Homo sapiens: one gene and its partner. The protein of the gene in region 2 interacts with the protein of the main gene of each other region in a pairwise test. Each region holds a gene or a part of one and is shown on either strand. Other genes may lie near its edges. The genes, in order: DCK and TFEC.

Region 1 (3,708 bases), on a different chromosome or scaffold from region 2:
AGTGGCTGAGGCAGTATTGCTTGAGCCCAGGAGTTTAAGACTACAGTAAACTATAACTGCGCCACTGTACTCCGGCCTAGGCAACAGAACAAGACCCTCTCTCAAAACAAAAAAAAAAAAAAAATTAAAAGAAGAGGTAAGTTAGTCAAATGAAGAAGGCTATTATTTACCAGACTTAATGTTGCAATGTATCTAGCATTTTTCAAAGGCAATAACATCTATATCTCTATTTTAGAAACATTTTACAACTCTGTTCTTTAACATATGACAGACTTAAGTTCTAGGTGGCTCGGTATAAGTTTCAAGTTTTAGGCATAGCAGAAGAGAAAATTCTGGATGAGAAAAATAAGTCTTGTATTATTAATTACCTTTCTAGGAGAGCAAACTATAAAGAGCAATAAATAAATTCTAATGGAAGACATGATATAGGTAATAGATCCAAGAGATAATCCAGACCACCATTAGGCTCAATTCTATTATGACCACCACACTGAGACAACTTTTGAGTCATGACAAATAAATAATAAATTTTTATTAGCGTCTTTTCAATTCTACAAATTTTAAAAGTCATTATACATTTTTAAAGGTTACTAAAAATCACTGAAATATGTCTCCACTTAAAATGGAATCAAAGTAATTTATACAATTTTCACCTTTAATATTCATAATTTATTTAAAAGTAGAATAAATTTTAATTCTAAAATGATTATTACATCTTTTTAGAACTGAAATTACATTTCAATGAGTGTAGCTCCACTGTAGTTCATAAGGTTTATACTTAAGAAATATTTAATTAACAAATTAATTTATACCAAACAAAAACAAACTAAAAAAATGCATACGTATAATGAGACAGTTTATGTATGGTAATTACAGATTTGAAATTAAGTCTCCTTTGCAAAGATCAGTGCGTCTGGACTGGTTAATCCACTAAATTATCATCTTTGAATAAGAAACCAAAAACAAAAATGACTTGGAAAGAAAAATAGTAGTTTAAAAGTGAAAATGACTCTTCCCCTTATTTTAAAATACATAAAATTTTCTAAAACGTAAAATGGAAAGGTTTAATACACAGGAAAAACACTGCACACCTTAACTAAACAAACTAGAAAGAAAATATATTTATATACAGAACTAAGATGAGTCCATTCATTATTTTTACAAATATTCACATAGATGGTTTAGAGATAAGTAGTTAAGTGTGTCTCATTAATTAATGGATGCTTTCTAGCCTCTGTCTTCATTAATTTTATTTCCTATTCAACAAAAAATAATGCTTTCAGGATATATTACATATAGAGCAATATCATTTTTATCAGTAATTTGTCTGAAAAAGAGAAAAACTTAAAAGCAGAACCCTACAAAGCAAAGCAAACTACAAAGCAAAGAGTAATCACAGTGTTTGCAAAATAGAAATGTGTGACTTTAACTTTATAGCAGGCTGCCTAATTAATCCAGACAGTAGAGAAAGCAGACTGAGGCAGGAAGTAAGAGGTGGGACTAAACTGTTAAGAAGATAATAATTTAAAATAAAACTTCAGAATCCTTATTCTAGGGATTCCTTTAATTCCACTTTGCAACTTTTAATAGGTACACTAATTTACACAGGACACACTACCATTTACTATGTAACATTAAAGCTTTCAGTTTAAGAAACTGGTCACCAACGAAGTGAGAGGCACCAGGGAAAAAAGCCAACCTGCTGAGGAAGACAAAAGAGGGGAATGACAGAAGGAAGCTGGATCTTTTATAATGTAGTTTAGTCACTATGCTGATACTGGAACCATCTACCTCTACATTTCCTGCTATGAGAAATAATGTCTTTGTCTTTAAATGTCTTTTTTAAAAAAAAAACAAAAGAAAAGAAACTGGTCAAAAAGTTTTGCATAAGATTCATTTTAAAAATCTTTTTTCCTTAAAACAAAAACGATTAAAAACTTGGGTTTTCTAAAGAAACTTATATTAATATGAAGTTACGAAGATACACAAAGCTGAAGTATCTGGAACCATTTGGCTGCCTGTAGTCTTCAGCAAGATCACAAAGTACTCAAAAACTCTTTGACCTGAGGAAAGGAAGAAAAAAAAATCAGTATAATTCCTTGACTAATTTGAGGTATCTAATATTCATCTTCATTTAAAAGTATATAATAGTTGAAGACCCCAGCTGTATAAGTAACTACCACAATGCCATTGCATTTACTTTCCAAAGAAATATTGTTAAGGCCGGGCGCAGCGGCTCATGCCTGTAATTCTAGCATTTTGGGAGGCCGAGATGGGTGGATCACTTAAGGTCAGGAGTTTCAGACCAGCCTGGCCAACATGGTGAAACCCCCCATCTCTACTAAAAACACAAAAATAGGCCAGGCGCAGTGGCTCATGCCTATAATCCCAGCACTTTGGGAGGCCGAGGCGGGCAGATCACCTGCGGTCAGGAGTTCGAGACCTGCCTGACCAACATGGAGAAACCCCTTCTCTACTAAAAATACAAAATTAGCCGGGCATAGTGGCACATGCCTGTAATCCCAGCTACTAGGGAGGCCAAGGCAGAAGAATCGCTTGAACCTGGGAGGCAGAGGTTGTGGTGAGCTGAGATCGCGCCATCGCACTCCAGCCTGGGCAACAAGAGCAAAACTCCGTCTCAAAAAAAAAAAAAAATTAGCTAGGCATGGAGGCGTGCACTTGTAATCCCACCTACTTAGGAGGCTGAGGCAGAACTGGTTGAACCTGGGAGGTGGAGATGGCAGTGAGCCAAGATTGTGCCATTGCACTCCAGCCTGGGCGACGGAGCAAGACTGTCTCGAGAAAAAAAAGAAATATTGTTAAATACTTCAGTAGTAAAAGATGAATGACCTAAAAGGTCATTTTAGGAGTTATTTATTGCTCTGTCACCCAGGCTGAGTACAGTGGTGCAATCAAAGCTCACTGCAGCCTTGAACTCCTGGCTAGGTGCACACCATCATGTCTGGCTAGTTTTTGTTTGTTTTTTATAGAGATGAGGTCTCACTATGTTGCCCAAGCTGGTCAGGAACTCCTGGGCTCAAGCAGTCTTCCCACCTCAGCCTCCCAAAGTGCTGGGATTACAGGTGTGAGCCACTGCATCTATCAATCTAAGATAGATATAGTTCTAAAATAGCTGTAACACCAATTTTATAATCTCTTCATTTAAATATCATAGACCACTGACATATGCAGCTTTAACACTGATAACATTAATAAGCACAATAGTTCAAGCAACTTTGAAAATCAAACATGTAGTAGATTTGTCATGTTTCTGAAGCACATATGTGAATCACATACTTTGCAATGTCAGTGTGTGCAGAAAATCATGTAAGGAGTCAATGAACCTAGCCTACTGACCATAATGTAAGAATATGCTTGTTCTCTACATATTCTAGGCTACTCAATAATTCTCAAGAAACAAAAATTATTGCCTTGTAAAAATACCTTAATAAGAAAGTCAACTGCTAGCATTATTAATAAAAGTAAATATAATAATGTGAAATGATTCTTAGTCAAAACAAAGAAGTGTTAGATAAAATTAAAAAGTGATTTACAAAGTCAGTTAAATTGATGGTTGGCTGTTAATACTTAATGCTGACTTTTCATTTAATAGTATTGTAAGTGAATTTATCCTATATTTTTAACATCATTAGTAGTATGAAGAGGTCATTGGAATTTTCCAGATAAGCTTTAGTTCATACCATGGGA
Region 2 (3,825 bases):
TTGCCCCTTTCTTTTATGAAATAGAGCCATCTTTTCTGGTCCCATGTTACCTCTACAACTACTATTTTTGCAAATCTAATACAGTCAAAGGCCTCATTATCCATGTGTAAGCCTAGAAACCATTTTTAGCAAAACCGTGATTTCTGATTTTCTTCTACCCTTCTCCCTTGAACTGTTTCCCTTTCTCTCCTATGGAGAGGCGAGGTTGTTCAAAATGAATGAAAGAGAACAACAAAGACAAAGTTTAAATTTAAAAGGGTCCTAGAAAAGACTGTATAATCCATCTGGGCCTAAACAGCATCCAGACCTAGATCTAAGTCTTTGGCCAATCATTGCTCACTGTTCAGCTTTCACCTTGGGAAATTTACCTATCCTTCACAAATCTCAGTTTTCTTTTCTGAACACTGGAGACAACATTACTTGCCCCAAGAGTCTTGTCAGACAAAAATTAGATGATACATGTAAAGCCGTTAGTACATAAGGAGAGCCCAATCAATGTTTCCTATTACCACCTGTTTCAAAGAAGAGGAGAATATTTCATAAAATATACTGTTTTGATACTCAATACAACTCTTCTAAAATGACTGCTACTCAAGCAAGAATATTCAGCATTCAGGGTCTCACTTTTATCCCCCTGTTAAGAAGAGTACTTCATGTTTTAGCTTATCCATTTATTTTATACATTATTTCCATCTCCTATCATATTCCAGAATATCTTTGCTTGCTATTTTGTTTTAGCTTATCCATTTATTTTATACATTTTTTCCATCTCCTATCATATTCCAGAATATCTTTGCTTGCTCTTTTGTTGTTGTTGTTGTTGCTGCTATGGTTTTGTTTGTTTCATCTTTAGACAAACACCCCTTAAGCAACTGTTCATCAGCTGTCATATATCTCACTAAGTGTGGTCCATTAGGCCTGAATCCAAGTGAATTTAGAGACAGCTCGGTATAACCAGTGTTTCATATAAAAACAAATGGAGATGCAAATGAATTGGCAATACATTTTGAGAAAATATGGAACACTAGAGATGTCCTGTGAAGAAAAGGCAAATTAACAGTTACTTCTCAAATTATGCAAGGAGCTGCTTTTTCCTCTATTTCATTTTGTTCTAAAAAGCTCTGTCCTAAGGCAGGCTTCCCTGAGGCTGTTTGAATAGGAGAGAATATTAAGGAAAACAAGACCAGATGTATGAGACATTGGCCCATTGTTATGTTCTGTACTCTGAAAATCTTTCAGAAATGTGGGATGAAGGGCCTCAAAGGAAAAAGGAGAGAGGTCCTTCCTTTGCACTCTGAACTAGATTTCCAATCTTAGAGCTCCTAAATCCAACCCAAGTTTGATTTCTCAGGAGCAAATTCAGAGCTGCTCTTCAGGTACAAGAGACCTAGATTTAAGCACCACCAGACACTTCAACCTTCACCCTCAGGCCCAGCCCCAGCCTTTCACTCTCCACACTAGATATTAATTCAATGTGAAATCTTCAGGAAATACACACACACAGACAGACAGACTTACTCATAGTCACATGTCAAGTTGGTAGCAAGCTAAAAATGCTGAACTTCTGACTTCCCATTTCACAGTGTGTTCTATCAAACCAAGCAACCATAAAGAAATCACTGGATCACTTGTAAATATTTGCTCAGTCCACTGGTTTGCTAATCCATGTTCAGTTTAAGAGAGAATTGCTGCAGTAAAAAATGTAGTAGTACATCACCTTCAATTTTCTCATGAAGTACATTCTACCATCTTTTCAGCCTCTCTCTTCTTGCCAAAGGTACAACTATTTTGAAGGTATTACCCATAGTCACCACATACAGTCATTTTTGCTCTCTTAAATCGGATACAGAAACACTCTATCAACAAAAATTTAAAACTAATAACTCCAGTCTTTCACCCTCTAATGTGTCTTCCAAATGGCCAGAGCTGGAGAACATAAAACTAAACATAATCAAAATATGCTAAAACATAATCAAATCAAGCTCCTTCTCTGGGTAAACCCAACAACTCTTAAAAGCATAGCTGTTCATGGTCTGCCCCCACCTTAACTCTTCAGCCCCACTTCATGTTATTTCACACAATGGTTCCACTTCTAATCAAAGACCCCTGAATATGCCATGCTTTTCACAACTCTGCACATGCTAGTCTTTCGATCCACTGGACCTTTTGGCCCAATGCCTTCGCCTGCCTAAAGAATAGCTAATTCATTTTAAAGATATGCTTCACCCATCTTCTCTTTGAACCCTTTCCAGATTGGCAGATAATTCATATATACTTTCATTGTAACATTTGTCTCTGTAATTAATTGTTGAAATGCCTGAACTGCTCACTGGCAGGTAGCATACCTTATCCATCTTAGCATCCTCAGAACCTAGTACCGCACCAGGTACACTCCTCCTCTACTTGTACACCTCCATCTTAACTAACCTTACATAGATATTAATTAAATTACTGAACGAGGTAAAATCACATATTCTCTTCCTTCTCCAGAAAATGGTGTCATCAGTCATGTCACTGGGCAGATTCATCCACTGGCTTATTCCTACTGTAAGAGTGGATATGCTCAGAGCTTTTCAAACACTATTAGAAGGGTTAATAGAGAAAAATGGTTGTTTGCAACAAAAGCAATAGATGTTTTAACATTTGAAAGCAATGACAAAGTAAAGAAGGTTGAATATGTCTACAGAAAAATCTTTAACAGTAGGTGCAATTCTGATGAAAAGAGCAGATCATCCATCACATAAAAATTGCCTTGCACATGTGAAGGACAATCATAAGCTGTAGAAGAGGAAAAGTGATTGGCTAAGTGGGGAGAAACACTAGAGAGTATTACTAAAATATCAGATGCCTCTTAGCCAAATGTTAATTAAGAAGAAGCCTAGAATTTTACCAGAATTTAAAGGCTGGGGGTGAAAATGTTGCTGACAAACTTTCTATTGCAGACCTCAGATAGTTCAGTAGGTTCAAATCCATTTGAGTCTACACAGGGTCAAAGGGAACAGAGTGTTAACATATTAGCCCCTGAGAAGTTCTCTGCAGACATTGGCAGGGATAAATACCTGTCTATAGACAGATTGTCAATAATACGGTAGGTACTGGTCTAGATTTTGGGAGCGTGAGGAAAGATGCCGCATAGAATGAGTGCTGCAAGTGGAAAACAAGATATAGCCAAATATTTGATTGAACAGATAGGAAGTCTAGGCTTGGCAGGGTGTGGTTGCTCATGCCTGTAATCCCAGCATTTTGAGAGGCTGAGGCAACCACTTGAGTCCAGGGGTTTGAGACCAGCCTGGGCAACATGGCGAGACCCCCCATCTCTACAAAAAAATACAAAAAAATAAAAAGAAATTAGCTGGATATTATGGTGCATGCCTGTAGTACCAGCTACTCTGGGGGGTTGAGGCGGGAGGCTCTTTTGAGCCCGGGAGGTCGAGGCTGCAGTGGGTCCTGATCAAGCCACTACACTGAAGCCTGGGTGACAGAGTGAGACCCTGTCTCAAAAAAATTTTTTAAATGTGCAGGCTCACATTCTTACTTGGGTGGAAATACATCTAAGGAAGCTGAGCATTGGAAACATGTTTGTGCAAGAAAGAATAAAGAAGGGAATAAAGGGAGGTATAAAAGAAGTCTCTGGCTCAGTGGCAAACTGAGAAAGCATGTTTCAAGAAGAGAGACAATTTGAAAATACTCTTCCATGGTAACTCTTAGGAATGAACATTAGGAGGCATGAGAATCCTTATTAAAACTCCACCTCTACGTCCTAGACTCTCCTTTCAATTCCTTTTTTTAGATCGATTTTCAAATTCTCACCTATTCTTTCAAACC

Evidence for each region.
Region 1: the proteins of TFEC (region 2) and DCK interact in a two-hybrid assay, tested with the Homo sapiens proteins (one large-scale study listed by BioGRID and IntAct).

The regions. Positions count from the first base shown.
Region 1 is NC_000004.12:71,027,707-71,031,414, reverse strand, and holds the end of DCK (deoxycytidine kinase), read right to left. Parts: intron 2,064-3,708; coding exon 2,037-2,063; 3' UTR 501-2,036; downstream 1-500. UniProt on the Homo sapiens protein: Phosphorylates the deoxyribonucleosides deoxycytidine, deoxyguanosine and deoxyadenosine. Has broad substrate specificity, and does not display selectivity based on the chirality of the substrate.
Region 2 is NC_000007.14:116,024,099-116,027,923, forward strand, and holds part of TFEC (transcription factor EC), read right to left. Parts: intron 1,689-3,825; exon of another isoform or gene 1,519-1,688; intron 1-1,518. UniProt on the Homo sapiens protein: Transcriptional regulator that acts as a repressor or an activator. Acts as a transcriptional repressor on minimal promoter containing element F (that includes an E-box sequence). Binds to element F in an E-box sequence-specific manner.